2 linked regions of the Homo sapiens genome follow. The protein of the gene in region 2 purifies or fractionates together with the protein of the main gene of each other region. This does not show direct contact. Each region holds a gene or a part of one and is shown on either strand. Other genes may lie near its edges.

Region 1 (8,254 bases), on a different chromosome or scaffold from region 2:
TACATTACGCATAAGTCACATATCTTTCCTCAGTCTGTTGCTTTATCTTATACCAAAAGTAGGTCATAAAGAAATTTTACATTTTGTAATGATCAAATTCATCAATCCTTTCGCTTATATTTTTGCCTTCTGGATCTTAAGAAGCCTTCTCAACCTTGAGAATATAGATATTTTCTTCTTGTAAGTATAGGACGATTAAATGTGTGTCTATTTTGTTTACTAATGCAATGATGCTACTCTTTTTACTGCTTCATGATGTATCTTGATATCTAGTTGGGTACCTTTTACCTTGGCTCTTTTTGTGCATTTATTCTTTCTTACCAATTCTAGAAGGCCTTACTTCTCTTTGCTTTATTACTTCTATACTTCCATCATTGGGCTTTTGTTTTTTACCACTCAACTATTATTACTTGTTCAGTAAGACACACTTACTACTAAGAAGTAATTAGAATATTCTTCCAGTAATAATCAGTGATAAGTATCAGTTTTGCCTTCTTATATGACTTGCCACACATAAACTTACCATCTGTTCTTTTCTATAGTTAATAACACAAAATATTAGAAATTCCTGTGTAATGATGGTTTAACTTGTTCTGTACAGTCATTTCCCTTTTATGTAGAAATTTGATGAGTATACTTTATTTAAGAGTATTTTTTTTAACATTGTTAACCATTCCTAATTTCTTGACACTCTGATTCTTTTTTCTAACTCTTCCCATTGGCAACTCCTCTACCTGACTCTTGTGGGTAGTCCCCAAGGTTCTAGCCCTGGTCAGACTTCCTTAGCAGGAAAGCAACCACTCTATGCCACCCTCTCCTCTTTTTTTCCCTAAAAAGAAATTTTATCTGAAAATCATTAAAATGTAGATTGTCTCTTTATCCTTAGTAATATATTATCCTTAATACTGAAAAAATCATGCTAAGGTACATAGTTGATGCTTAAATGTGTTAAAAGAGTGAATATTGTTAATGACTCTTAATATGCAAAACACATAAAATACTACTTTATTACTATCATAAATATTTTATAAATTCCTATTTAAAACATGATAAAAATCAACAAAAATACAAGGTACTATATTCTTAGCACTTGTAGTATATATCTCAATGTTCTAAGTATATGTACCTTAGAACATTGTTTAAATGTTTATGGAATCCCTGAAGCATTTCAGGAAAATAGCTTGAAATCACGGCTCTAGACCTATTCATCTTTTAACGTAGGTCAACATGCGACAATATTTAGGATTAATTATCCTGAGAGCTTTCAATTCAACATTAATCATGCAAAAAAATCACATGCACAAAGAATATTGATTACTAAAATTGGCAATATATACATAGTCATGGTTAATTAAGCACCACATTTTTATTATACATTTTTCTTATGTTCCCTAAGAGGATATTATCTTTGGGGAAAATTTTAGAGAAAATTTAGATCTACTTTCCCATCATAAAGATTTTTAATAATTCACTATTTAAATGGTCTTTTGTTTCATGAAGTTTTACAACAATACTAAAAAGTTCTGGAAATATCACTGTTTTGGTTTTTGGTTACTATACAGTTTTCCATCTCTATGATCTCGTGATGTTTGGTATCTAGTCTCTCTTTCCTAATACGAATAGAGTACTATTAGGACTCCAATTGTCAATACCAGTCCTCAGGACCTTTCCTAACTTTCTACCTAGCACCTCAATACTCTCTAGGAAACTGCAATCTGACAAAGGGTTTAGAACATGTATGCAATCCTCATCTTTTTTCCTCCTCTCTGTCATTCATTCGTTCATTAAAATTTAGTTGAGTCAAATACTTGCCCAGACAGGCAAAAGATATGTTAGGAACAAAGCTTTTCTATCTTATATTTCTTATCTTAATCTTCTGCCTCTTAAATGAAGGTCTTAACTTCCTTATTAAAATATAAAATCCAACTTGAGGTTTATATAAGATACATATCTTGAAATGGTATAAAAAGTAATAAAAATTTCCAGGTACATACATACTAAAACAAACCTGGAAAGGTAAGTTTGAAAAAACAAAATTTGTGGCAAGAAACTATAACATATAAACAGGATTATTTTGTTGAAGTTGTTAGAAAAATAAAGAGAGCCACAAGGATAAATTATAATTTGTCCTTGTGTGGTAAGATTGTTCCATCAATGGCCCCCAATGAGTCATACCATCCGCTGTCAGCTTGTGTAGTCCCCTCATTCTGACTCTAGACTTGGCCATGTGATTTGCTTTGTCCAATGGAACATTAGTAAATATGATAGATGTACAGGATCGATAAGCTCTTGCATATTGGAGCTTGCTCTCTTAAGATGTTTTCTCTACTATGGAAAGAAGATTCGTCTAGTCTACTGGAGGCTGAGAGGCCCTGTACAGCAGAGACAGCCAACTCACTGAATCGTGAAAAATAATAAAAGTCCTTGTTTTAAACCACTGAGTTTTGGTGTGGTTTGTTATGCAGTGATGGATAATGTGAAATCTTATCTCTCTTTGTCTATGTCTGTGGCAGAGCAACTGGCTAAAAGTTACATAAAGCTATACTTAATTTGAAAATAATAATAAAGGTCTCTCAGTAAACTTAAAAAATATTAGACCTGCTGTTCTCTAGCATTTCCTCCTCCATGTAGACTCAGTTATTCAATCCACTTAAATACATATGTACAATACTCAACATTTAACTATTATCCTGTACATCTTATAGGTACAGCCTGTAGCAACTAATCAACGAACAGAGTACACAATAAATATTTTTATTTTTAAACACTGAATTGTACATCTTTCATATAAAACATGAGATTCTAGCCTGTTTTAAAAAATAAGTATACTTGCTAGTACTATCTTCACTCTTTTTTTTTTTCAGAAGCCAATGTTCTCTAAATCTGCAGCTTCATTCCACAGCTTTACAGAATCATAATCTCTTGAATATATTTCCAATGTTATTAAAAAATAAAAAATCATACAAGATATATTTAGCACATTAAAACTTAAGAGGTTACAGTATAACTGTCCAGACCTCCAGGTACCACTGAATACTTTTCCAGTACAAAGAGGCCAATATGTTAGAATAATTAATTCTCTGTATTTACTTTTATTAAAAAGAGGTTTTTGGTAGTAAGAACAAATAATCTCTCATTTGTTGCCTGAAATCCTAAAATAGGATCATTGGTTTCTAGGCTTGCTACTTGCTGCTTAGCAACCTGTCCTACTTGCCTGCCTTCCTTTCTGTTGTAAAGTACAGTGGACATGGGAGCAGGCTGACGATAGATGAATACTCGACGAAGGCACTCACAAAGGGCTGCATACGAGTAATTTGGAGCACAGGCAAAAAATTTTTTGTCTCTCTTTGATGCTTGGACATAGCCTGCCAAGAATATGAGACAAACAAAAGAAAAACTATATATTAAACAGAAGGGGAAAAATGATGATTTAACATTTAATATTTTGCAATGTTTATTACAAATTAAAATGCCCAAGTAAAATATATACCATAAGGTATATAATTCTGAATCATTAACGATTAGCCACAATCAGTCTCTCCCATCTGGTACAAAAATACGACTTTAATTCCTAAGGAACAAAACAGATATGGCTTTCTCGCTTCAAAAAAAGCGTAATATAGCTTCATTTAATTTCCACGAATAATTCGAACACTAAAATTCTAAAATCTAAAACACTCAATACATGACAAAATATCTTTAAGTGCCAATTTAATATTTAGCTTCGTGAGTTACGGATAGGGCATCACAGAACCATTTTTTTCCTCTTAAATAAATTGGAAAATGTGTATAGGATACCATCATAAAGTTATTTTAGTTTTCTGTTCATAATGTATCCCTGAATGTACTAGTATTCGTGATGCATTCTCTTATTATCCCTAAAATGTTAGTGATATTTTTATACATCAATACCAACACTGTAACTGGATTTTTTTGTACTTTTAGCCCCCACAAGTAGAATGTTGATCACTATAACTTCAAAAATAATTTCAAGTCTCTAAACTGAAAAAAATCCTTATCTTAATTCATGTACATGTTTAAAAAGTATCTTTTTGGATTAAAACAACATTTATATTCCAAAATATAAATTATGATTTTTAGATAGTGACATGGTTAGCAAATGTTAGGTATTTATGATCATGTAAAATAAGAATATAACATTAATTAAAATTGAGATCTCATCAAACAATGAATAAGCAAAGGAACTACTGAGCACATGCAGATCAATACTGTTTTTAAAAATATTAAGCAGGTTTGAAGCAGGAAAAGTGAAGATTTAGATACCTATTTAAATAGTTTAAAGTAGCTATCCAGGCTAACCTTGACAGAATAATGTATATAATATTTCAAGAGTACATATCTAATATATGTTGATTTAACTTAGAATTAAGCATAGAATTCCCCTATAATAGGGGATTTGGGGATACAAATAGAACATCTGAGCATCTAAAGATGATATGATAGAGCTTTCTTCTGACCAAAGTATAGATAATTAAAAAATAGCATTATAGTAGGGAGGCTAAAAATTATATGGTTAAATTAGTTAACCAAACTTTGTACTTCAGGTCATAAAAATCCATTTGGAGTCTGAACCAGTTTAGCAGCCTACATTATTAACTATAAGGGATAATTAATAAATTTCTTCTACAATTAGGGTTGTGCACATATAGCCATCAAAATACGTAACTTCACTTCTTGCTGCCTGTTTAAAATAACCTTTCAATAAAGCAACAACTGTGGCTAATTCACATAAAAAATTTCTGTCACACAATACTAATGCATTTTGACAGAAAATCAATGATTGCATACGTCTATAATTAAGTAGTTTAAACATTGTCAAGCCCTAATTTTAAAACTGATTTTTTTCCTTTTATCCTACCAAATAAATTTAATTTCTGCTTATCACCGCTTTCCATAAGTATTTTCATTATAATGGCTCTCTTTTGTACTTAATTTTGACAAAAGATGTCTCCTAATGTGCATTACACCTTAGGGGAATTCTATGATGTTTCTGAAGATTACTCTGAAGAAACTTGAACACCAGTTCCATGTAGGGTATTATCAAGCTCCTTGCTCAGACTCCAGTATTATATGGCTTACAGAATTAGAAAAAGCAAATGACTTATTAGAATAATTCAAGTGGTTAGATAACCACTTTCATTTCTATTCTGTGTTGATCTTCTGTACAAGCATAAAAACAGATTAGTCTAAATGTTCCAACAGTGCTAACACTCACAACTAGTACAAGCAAACAAATCATAGCGCAAATCAATCTAAATGTAATCAGGACAGCTCAAATTAAAAAGAAAAAAAAGAAATGAACTTTAAATGAATGATGACTGTATTTCTGATTTCATGGAAAATGTCAAAGAGTTTGCTTTATACCTAAAGCATTGAAAGTTGCGATGTGCTCCCACATATCATCTTGTTTGCTGGAGTGTGGTTGCCAGAGTAGGGCATCAACATCATGGCGCAAACAGAAGCAGGGCATTTCTTTAGGATCCACTATGACAGAGAAAAGGTACTGGTTGCTTCCAAGATTCACCTAAAAAGTGATTTAAAAAAAAATTTACTCAACAACAAATTAATAATAGCAACAATAACAATGGCAGAAGCTGACAGCCAGCATTAAGTGTCAGCAACTGTTTTATACTTTTTATATACTTAATCTGATTGACTCCTCATAATATCCCTGAGATAAATGTGCTACTGTTATGTTCATTTCAAAGCTGAGGAAAGTGATGCACAAGGCATTTAGGTAACTTGTCGATGGTCAGCCTGGCCATAAGTCATGGAGCTGAAATTTGGACCCAGAGTCTATGTTCTTAATCACCACGTGATATACCACCTCTTAATTGTTAGTAAATAGTTTAAAACACGATATAAAGCAGGGGTCCCCAGTCACTGAGCCGCAGACTGGTACCAGTCAGTGGCCTTTTAGGAACTGGGCCGCACAGCAAGAGATGAGCAGCAGGCAAGGGAGCATTACTGCCTGAGCTCCACCTCCTGTCAGATCAGCAGTGGAATTAGATTCTCACAGGAGGGTGAACACTATTGTGAAATGCACATGCAAGGGATCTAGGCTGTCTGCCTTATGAGAATCTAACTAATACCTGATGATCTGAGGTGGAACAGTTTCATCCTGAAACCATCCACCAAGCCCCCACAGGCCCATGGAAAAACTGTCTTCCACAAAACTGGTCCCTGGTGCCAAAAAGGTTGGGGACTGCTGATATAAAGCACCAATTTTATAAGCAGACTATTTTTAGGCCATAGAATACACACATGAAGTTTACTAATGCTAACTTGTAATAATTACCAAGAACAATGACACTACCAGAATTTATGAGCACACTCTCATAACATTTATAACCAGGCATGTTATAAATACTAATCTTAACAACTCGCAAGGCTATTATTATCTTCATTTAAGGGATGAAAGAACAGGCTTGGAGAGTTTGAGTAACTTGTTCTAGGCTAAAGAGAAATATCACAATGCTGGAATTCACACTCAGATGTTTAAAACTATTTACTTAAACGTACTGCTTAATTAAAGTATCAATGTCAATATGTCAATAATGTCAACATTTGTTATTGTAACACATCAATAATTGTTACTGCAATATTGATGCCTAAAGAAATGCATTTTAATACAAAATCATCAAATTGAAACTCACTGAATTTCATCTACAGCAATACTTTTTCTAAATGAAGACATGTTGTAAGGATAGTCTTCTTTATGAGAAATGTTATTATCAGAGTTGAAAATACGAAACAGAATACCAACAAAAATCACATCAAATGTAGAAAATATAAAATATGCACAGTACTTATAAATATGTAATTGATTCTAGGAGTTTGCAAGCAGACTGGAGAACCGTAAAAGATTGGGTTAAAGTAAGAAGTGGAGACCTGACCTGAATTCAACAGGGAAAGCTGTGAAGTGGCTCTCCAGCAAGGGGACCTATTATTGGTAAAGCTGTGACAACACAGGCTATTGGTCACAGGAGAATACAGTGTCAGAGCAACCCATCTTCTGCTCCCCAGCAATGCCAGGGAAATAGGGCTTTTTCGTAGAGCCAGTGCTTGCTCTCTACAAAATAAGGGGAGAAGGCCAGCACACAGAGACCACAGACTATTTCTTTTCTCTCCTTACTCCCGATGATCAGTGGCTAGATGAGGTTTATTTTCAAAGTCACCACTACCTAACTGGCCTTTTATTATTATGTTTGACAGACCTAACACTGCTTCAGCTCTCTTCCCTGTACTCCAACTCTGATACTCTATTTTTTTTAACCAAGGGCTTTCACAGAAGAAAAATAAACAACAGCTAAAATAAAATACAAGTTGAAACAATATTTTCACAACAATACATCTACTTTCATGAGCCAAGTGCCTAAAGAATGTATTGAATATTATGAGGATTAATATAATTGAATGATCTCTGGTCCATCCATACTTGAAGAGACAGCAGTGAGAAAAGAATAGAGGACCTTGAACCACGAAGTGAAAGGTGACCACCAAGGGAGATCAATCATGAAAATAAGAGGATAAGAATGAAGGTAGGTGCCTTATTATGAGCCCCTCACTCTGACTTAGATGTTTCTTCACTTCAGCAGCCACTTACCTTACGCATATTTCCATTATGGCGACTGTGTCAAGTGTTGTTAATTGTGAAACTAGCAATTTCATACAGCTTGTCTTTGCCATACCTTTGACATAGCATTCTGTTTGGACTCCTTGTATTTTTTTTACCTGATAGATTCCCACTTATCCTCTAAGACTCAATTCAACCATCAGTTGCTCTCAGAATTCCCCCACTCTCGTGGTTATATGAGCTGCTTGAATTCTGAGAACTCCAGCATCATGTATGTTATTCCTATCAAATTATTTATCATATTATATTAGATTATTAATATTTTTACATACCACCTGTGGCAGGATGAATAACGTCCCCCAAAGATGTCCACATCTAAATCCCTTGGAACCTGTGAATAAGTTACCTTATATAGCAAAAGGGACTTTGTAGATGTGGTTAAGTTTAAGGTCCTGGGATGGAGAGATTATCCTGGAATATGTGGGTAGACTCAATGTATTAAGAAGTATTCTTAGGGAGGGAGGAGGGCCACAGACACAGAAGGTGAGATAACAACAAAATCAAGGGGATAGACAGAGTTTAGAAGATGATATACTGCTGGCTTTGAAGACACAGGATGGGCCCGGCCACAAGCCAAGTAATGGAGGCAGCCTCTAG
Region 2 (7,807 bases):
CAACCTTCATCCCCCGAGTTCAAGCAATTCTCCTGCCTCAGCCTCCCAAGTAGCTGGGATTACAGGCACACGCCACAGCTAATTTTTTTGTATTTTAGTAGAGATGGGGTTTCACCATGTTCATTAGGCTGGTCTTGAACTCCTGACCTCATGATCTGCCCACCTCGGCCTCCCAAAGTGCTGGGATTACAGGCGTGAGCCACCGCGTCTGGCCCATGTTTCTATTTTCAATCAGAGCATTTAGAATATAGGAACATCTGTGCATTTAGGGATGCTGCAGGTTCTCAAGTAATGTCATTTCATTAATATTGATGAAAAATAGAAATGATTCCCAGCTGGGGCCACTGTCTTTGTGGAGTTTGCACTTTCCCTTTAACGTCTACATGGGTTTTCTCTGGTACTTCAGTTTCTTCCCAATTCCAAAGCTGCACCTGTCAGGTTACTTGGAACGTCTCAGTGGTTCCAGTCTGAATGAGTGCGGGTGTGTGAGTGCATCCTATAATGGAATGGTGTCCTCTTCAGGGCTGGTTCTTGTCTTGTTCCCTGGGTTGTGGGATGGGCTCCAGCTGCCCATGATCCTAAACTTGAATAAGCAGGTTGGAAAATGATAGAATGAATGAATATAAAATATTGTAAAAGAAAAATTCATAAAGTTTATGATAACCATACAAATGCAGTCAGCAAACCAGCCACATTCGTGATTATTTTTTAACTGTGTGGTGGTAGGAGGTGCTCCTTACAGTTTTCCCTTTGCAAACATTTATTCCTTGGTTTAACCCACCACTCTTAAAATTGCCATCACTCACTGATTCACCAAAAATTGGGTAAATATCTTACCTTGTTTTTATTAATCTTTCTTAAGTGTATGTATAGCTCACATGTATTTTGATGTTGAATATTAGAAGTGACTGGGTTTTTTGGCCAGGTGCCGTGGCTCACACCTGTAATCCCAGTGCTTTGGGAGGCCGAGGCAGGCAGATCACTTGAGATCAGGAGTGTGAGACCAGCCTGGCCACATGGTGAAACCCCCTCTCTACTAAAAATGCAAAAAAAAAATTAGCCAGGTGTGGTGGCGGGTGTCTGTAATCCCAGCTACTCCAGAATCTCTTGAGCCTGGGACAGAGAAGTTGCAGTTAGTCGAGATCTCGCCACTGCACTCCAGCCTGGGCAACAGAGCGAGACTCCCTCTTAAAGAAAAGAATCTTTGGATCTTTATTTAGAAGTTTGGTGATCTTTTTTTGTGACCAAAAATGCTGCAGGAACCTAATTCTTGTTTATATCAGTTAGCCTGTGGCAAAATTAGTTTTGCTATATGTTGTTTCACTTAAAGTGAAACTTTAAAATAGGTTCTGTTTCTAAGAACCTATCGATGACAGTGACAACTTTGAGGACTTAACTGTTTTTAATTTTAGAAAATGTATGTTGCACCTACATCCAAGTCCTTTGTTATACAGCATAGTGCATTCAGTAGACATTTTATAACTACTTAAATTGTATCTTTGCCTCTTGAGAACATCTGCTTCAGTACATCTTCCTAAATATTTTTAGAGTGGCCAGAATAGCAGTGTGCGAGTTGGTGATGTATTCTTTTTAGGAAGTTGAGTCTTGTTCAGTGTGAACATGTGTTTGTTTGCCTGCTCTGCCTATGTTTCTAACTGGGCTTCCTTTGTTTCATGCTTACGTTTCTACTTTTTTCTTCCTAGCTACTACCCACAGATGGCATGATCCGAAAACACTCTCATGTCAAGATAGGGCGTTACCATCAGGTACAGGCCTGGGGTTGGGATCCGGGGAATTGCCCAGGGTATAGGGAGGGGCTGTATCTGGCTGAGTTCCAGCCAGCCGCCCCCACCCCCTGGCAGGAATTCCAGCCTAGGTGGCTCCTACCTGCTTCTTGAACCCAGAACAGGTGCCTGGGATAGAAATAGGAAGTTACCTAGTAGGGTTTATTTTGAAGCGGGATGCCAGTCACACCCGGGTGGCTTCCATTTTTCCTGTAGCATTTACAAGAGCAGCTGGACTTAGATCTCTCACCTTTGGAGTACATGATGAAGTGCTACCCAGAGATCAAGGAGAAGGAAGAAATGAGGAAGATCATTGGGCGATACGGTCTCACTGGGAAACAACAGGTCAGTAAAGGAGGGTGTGGTGAGGATGCCAGATAGCTGGCAGACTGTGGCTGGGTGGGTCAGGGGATACTGTCCTGGCAGCCTGGGTTTGGAAGCTGTCCAAACCAGAGTCTCCTCCATTTGACTCCCCTAAGAACCTACTACCTTTTCTTTACTCTAGGTTGTTATGTAATGGAGCATTTTGAGGGGGCAAGGATAGCGTGCCAGTCTCTGACATGCCCTTGTGCCATAGTGCTTGAGGGCAAAGGAACTTGTAATCTAGAAAACAAATTTCTGGATTCAGATCTGGAAGGATCCAATTCATTGCCAAGAGAGCGAGAGGTGTGGGCTTAGTAATGGCAAGGGCTTCAGGTTTCCGGATGAGTCTCTTTCAGGCCTCAAGAGACTAGTGGGTCTCTCTGAGCCTCACTTTTTATAAATGGCGATGCTAATGGAGGAGTCAGGGAGAAATGAGGGAGAGATGAGCTGTGCTGTTTGGCGGGGATAATGCCAAGTTATATGTAGGTCACGGTTCTACTCAGGTGAGCCCAATCCGGAACTTGTCAGACGGGCAGAAGTGCCGAGTGTGTCTGGCCTGGCTGGCCTGGCAGAACCCCCACATGCTCTTCCTGGATGAACCCACCAATCACCTGGATATCGAGACCATCGACGCCCTGGCAGATGCCATCAATGAGTTTGAGGGTGGTATGATGCTGGTCAGCCATGACTTCAGACTCATTCAGCAGGTGAGGCCCTGGCCAGGGGGTGAGGCACAGCAGAGCTTCTAGGGGGTTGGGTAGGGTAGTCATGGCATGTGGAGGGTGCATAATACCCGCCTACTGAATTAAGAGAAGGGGCTCAGAGTGTAGACACAGGTGGTGAGGACCAGTTCTTATGCCTCTTTGGGGCTACTTAGAAAGCCTTAACTGAAACACTTCATTTCTTCAGTAGCTATCTGGAGATGTCAACCAACTTAGCATTTTGGGCCCAAATGGGAAAGAGAGTTGGGTAGAAAACGGTGCTTTTACTACTGTCCCAAGATTCTTCAGTCCAAAAATAGTATTCTAAGGAGGATTTTGATTAGACAGCTACCACAGTCATTTGAGAAAAAGTTGTTGCTCATTCCTCTGAAGCTCTGGGGAAGATGAGAGGTGGAGAAAAGAAGGCTGAGAGTGAAGCCTCTGAATAGATCTAGGCCCTGCCAGGGAGCTGACAATAGGAGTGACACAGCAGTTCCTGGCTTGGAAGGCTCCAAACCTGATGATGGTACCCTTGGGTTAGAACATCCCAAATAACTTAGAAGTAGTGAGACAGTGAGTTGGATATGGGTTTGGGGGGCGGAGTTTTCTTCCTAGACGCCCCTCAGGACAGTCTGCTGGGCAGAGGCAGGGACAGTGACTAGCCCAGGATTAAGTCCAGGTTTTGCTTTCTAGGTTGCACAGGAAATTTGGGTCTGTGAGAAGCAGACAATCACCAAGTGGCCTGGAGACATCCTGGCTTACAAGGAGCACCTCAAGTCCAAGCTGGTGGATGAGGAGCCCCAGCTCACCAAGAGGACCCACAACGTGTGAGCCCTCTACCTGGGTTCGGGTCAGGAGCTCCATCTGGGAACTAACAGCTGCTAACCTGACCAGCCGCTCAGGACAGGACCCTGGGGCTACACTCCTGCATTGCTGCAATACTGCTCCCCCAGCCTCTCCCCTGCCCCTCAACCTGCCTTAGCTGCACTCTCTTACCTACAGCTGGACAGTACCTGTCTGTTTCCTGTCCTCCTTCCAGTTACATCTGTCCATGTCTGGACTCGGCTGGCCGTTCCCTCCAGCCCCTTGCTGGTTATCTTACTCTGAGTGTGATGCAGTCAGAGGCACCTGCGGGTTAGCCCAGGGGCCCAAGCCCTGGATTTGGCCTGCGGAGGAGCTTAGGATCCTCGTTTTCTGGGTTTTGGTGATGTTGGAGGAGTACCCCCCAGCCCACCGCCCCGATTCCTTTTTGCTTCTGGTTTGGAGCTCCGGACCAGGACCTTCGTCCTGGTCAGTTTTTAAATAATTATTTAGCAGTGTAACTTTTAGACCTGCGTGACATCTACAAAGCGCCCAATAAAGAAAGAGGAAGCCACGGTCCCTACCTTCCTTCTCGGGTCTCTGGGGCCTTCTCCTCCCTGCAGTGCCAACATGCACTGCCCACAGCAGGAGCTGGATCCAGCGTCAGTGTGTCGATGGGAACTGAAGACTAGTCCATAGGAGCTGGAAGAACTTTGTCCCTTTACTTCTGATTTGAAATTGTACCTTTTCTCAGGCCTGTGATTCACAGACTTTAACATGAATCAGAATCACCTGGAGGGCTCATGCAATCAGATTGCCAGATCTCGCCTCAGCGTTTCTGGTTCAATAGGTTTTGGGGGAGACCAAGAACGTTAACATTTCTAGCAAGTTTCCAGGTGATGCTGTTGTTGCTGGTCTAGAGACTATTTTGAGAACCACTGTCCAGGAGCGTGGTTTTCTGATTGTGATCTGAGGTTCTGCCCCAACTGCACAGCAGTTGGGCTGCTTGTTAAAAATGCAGGCCAGGTGCGGTGGCTCACACCTGTAATCCCAGCGCTTTGGGAGGCTGAGGCAGGTGGATCACTTGAGCTCAGGAGTTCAAGACCAGCTTGGGAAACATGGCAAAACCCGTCTTTATGTGCCTGGAATCCCACCTGCTCAGGTGGCTAGGGTGGATGGATCGCTTGAGCCCAGGAGGTGGAGGTTGCAGTGAGCTGAGATTGCACCACTGCATTCCAGCCTGGATGACAGAGCAAAACCCTGTCTCAAAAAAATGCAGACTGGCCAGGCACAGTGGCTCACACCTGTAATCCGACTGTAAGCTCATCACCTTGGGAGGCCACTGTAGGAGGATCAATTGAGCCTAGAAGTTCAAGACCAGCCTGGGCAAAGTAGGGAGACCCCTTCTCTACAAATAGTAATAAAATGAACCGGGCATAGTAGCATGTGCCTGCGGTCCCAGCTGCTCTGATAAGAGGAGGCTCACTTGAGCCCAGGAGGTTGAGGCTGCAGTGAGCAGAGCGTGCCGCTACACTCCAGCCTGATGACAGACCGAGACACTGTCTCAAAAAAATAAAAAAATTCAGATTGCTGAGCATCAGACCTATTGATTAATCGCATTTGGTAGAATGAGAGAGGTGCAGAGATGGCCAGGAGTTTGCATTTTCACACCAACGTCTGTGAACCTCTCTTCCTATTGGGATACAGGAAATTTTGTATTTTTACCTGTCCACAGCCATAGTTATCATCACTGTTGAATTCACTTCCAGCCCAGGGCTCTGCATACCTTATCTGGGTCTTTTGAACTTCAATAGCATTTCACCAGTGGCCATCCTTCCTGGTGTGGATTCATCACTCTGCCTCTGAAATCAGCCATCCCTATGGGAAGACACAGCCATGATTTTTCAGTACTCATAATACAGCCAGGACTGGCGGGAGCAACTGTCCCAGATGGTGCTTAAACCCCTTAGGAGCTCATGATCTTCTTGGAAAGCCAGTAAGACAGAACCATACAGGACACAAATTAGATGCTAAATTGTGATTTAGATAGGAGACAGAAGTATTCAAAAAGGAGGGAAATTTCTTGTGAGTAGCTGCCCAGAAAGGTGGAATTGGTGTGCTCTCACTTGAAAAATGAGTAGGATCTTCTCAGATGGCCACAAAGTCCAGGAGCTGCCCTGGGCAACAGGGACAGGAGCCTCCCGTGAGACACTGCAGCTGAGACAGATGGGAGTCCTCTGACCCCAGAGGGTACTGGCTTGACTGCTTTATGCCTTAAGTGGGGCCTGGAGCAAAATGGCCCAGGTTAGTCTGTCCTGAGAGTCCAGAGCCTTGGTTCAGGGGAGAATGGCATCTGGAGAGTGGGCTGCTGGGATAATGGGGACAGTGAGGGACAGAGCCCTTGATACTTAAGGAAGTGCTGGATATTGCTAAGAATTCAGGTAGTCTCGGGATCTCCAGAGTCTCCATACTAGGACAGGAGATCTTCAGAACCTGGAGGAATGGAAATAGTCTAGTCAGCTTATTTGTCAAGAAAAATGTCAACCTTGGTAATTTAAATAATGCTTTAAAAGTCCACAAAATACATATTTCTAAAATTAGCAGTGCCTTGTTTTGGATTGAGAAGTGGCCTGTTAATTCTCTTAAACCTTAGCCCGTAGGATGTGGCCAGCCGTTCAGAGCTGGGTGGAGAGGTAAGTTGATTGAGGGGTTGCTAGCTTTAACACAGCCAGCAGGTGATGCTGGTCTTTGGAACCCTTCTCCCACCTCTCAATTTGTAACATCCTCTTTTCCCCCAAGCCCCTATACCTTTCATATTGCTCCAGGTTTCTTTAATCACAGCATTCAAGGGCCTGAAGTATTTGTTCCCCCATAGGTGCTAAGTGAGACAATTGACTTTCTCCATTTTGCAATGGGCTTTTCTTCCCTTTACTGCTAACTCCCAAGACCGCCACGTCTGCTTTTCTGGTGAGCACCTATTGCTTTTCTGCTTCTCACCTCCTCCAGTGGTCTTCCTCCCTGTCAGCCTCTTCACCACCTGGGGAGCTTCTGCTATCTGCATCTAGTCCAGGCTCAGGCGTTTTGCTCATCTGCCTTCAGTCCAAGCCTCATTATACTCCGCTCACACTGATTCCACTCTACCTTTCACACCGTTTCTTTCTCTCATTCTTCCCAATTAAAGGATACATCCTACAAGGATACATCCTACAATGGGTATATGAAGGATACCCTTCATATACCCATTTGTACCAAGAAGCGGCCTCTAGCTACTCGAGCCCTCCTCACCATGGGTACCACCACTTTTAGCCCCTTCACCCTTCTCTGGTGGTTTGATGTGAACCAGTCTTGTCTCTTCACCTCCACTGGGGCGCAGTGGGGGAGGGAGCTTGCATTCCTTCTGGAGTCTGCAGCACTCTGAGCTGTGCTGGCACCTGTGTGCTCCGTGATTACAGGCTGGTGGGCTGGAGTTGCCTGAACTTTTAAGAAGTGCGTAAATACACTGGGAGATGGTTGGGTGGGGGAGGGGACCCGGTGAAGGGTTTCTTAATTCAGAGGGATTACTTGTGGGAGAGGAAGGAACAATTAGTCTCTTTTCAAGGTTAGCCCAGAGCATGTTCAGGATTGGGATTGAGTCACGCCCCTTACCTCCCACCTGCCCCCCCCCCCCCTCCCAGGTGCATGTCCCCAGCCACACCTGGTGGGGCAGCTGACTTGATAAAAAGTAGCTCCAAGGGGGTGGGTGAGGGCTATTCGAGAAGCAGGAGGATGAGCGCTGAGTATGGACAGCGGCAGCAGCCCGGGGGCCGTGGGGGTCGCAGTTCTGGGAACAAAAAGTCCAAAAAGCGCTGTCGGCGCAAGGAGTCCTACTCCATGTATATCTACAAGGTGCTGAAGCAGGTGAGTGCATAGCAAGGATGTGTGTGAGGGATGCCCTCACAAAGCGCCTTGAAAGGGCACTGGCTGGAAGTGGGGACCTTGAGGTTAGTGTTGGCACTGGGGCAAGTGGCTCAGGCAGGCCTGGCCCCTCTTGAGGTGGCGGGACCTGGTTTTTGAGGTCTCCACCTCTCTCAGGATCTTGGGCACCGGTGATAGGAGACAAAGCGTGCTCCCTGCCACCCTCCAGAAGTTTACGGGAACGATGATGAGATAACGTGATTA

What was found.
Region 1: the proteins of ABCF2 (region 2) and NUDCD1 purify together in Homo sapiens (affinity purification with mass spectrometry, with the first as the bait; 2 studies listed by BioGRID). This does not show direct contact.

What each region holds. Positions count from the first base shown.
Region 1 is NC_000008.11:109,239,937-109,248,190, forward strand, and holds the end of NUDCD1 (nudC domain-containing protein 1), read right to left. Parts: intron 5,546-8,254; coding exon 5,386-5,545; intron 3,366-5,385; coding exon 3,073-3,365; 3' UTR 983-3,072; downstream 1-982.
Region 2 is NC_000007.14:151,209,926-151,217,732, reverse strand, and holds the end of ABCF2 (ATP-binding cassette sub-family F member 2), read left to right. Parts: intron 1-1,703; coding exon 1,704-1,766; intron 1,767-2,000; coding exon 2,001-2,129; intron 2,130-2,650; coding exon 2,651-2,854; intron 2,855-3,541; coding exon 3,542-3,679; 3' UTR 3,680-6,249; downstream 6,250-7,807. Other genes in the region: ABCF2-H2BK1 (ABCF2-H2B protein), read left to right, coding at 1,704-1,766, 2,001-2,129, 2,651-2,854, 3,542-3,675; H2BK1 (histone H2B type 2-K1), read left to right, coding at 7,415-7,546.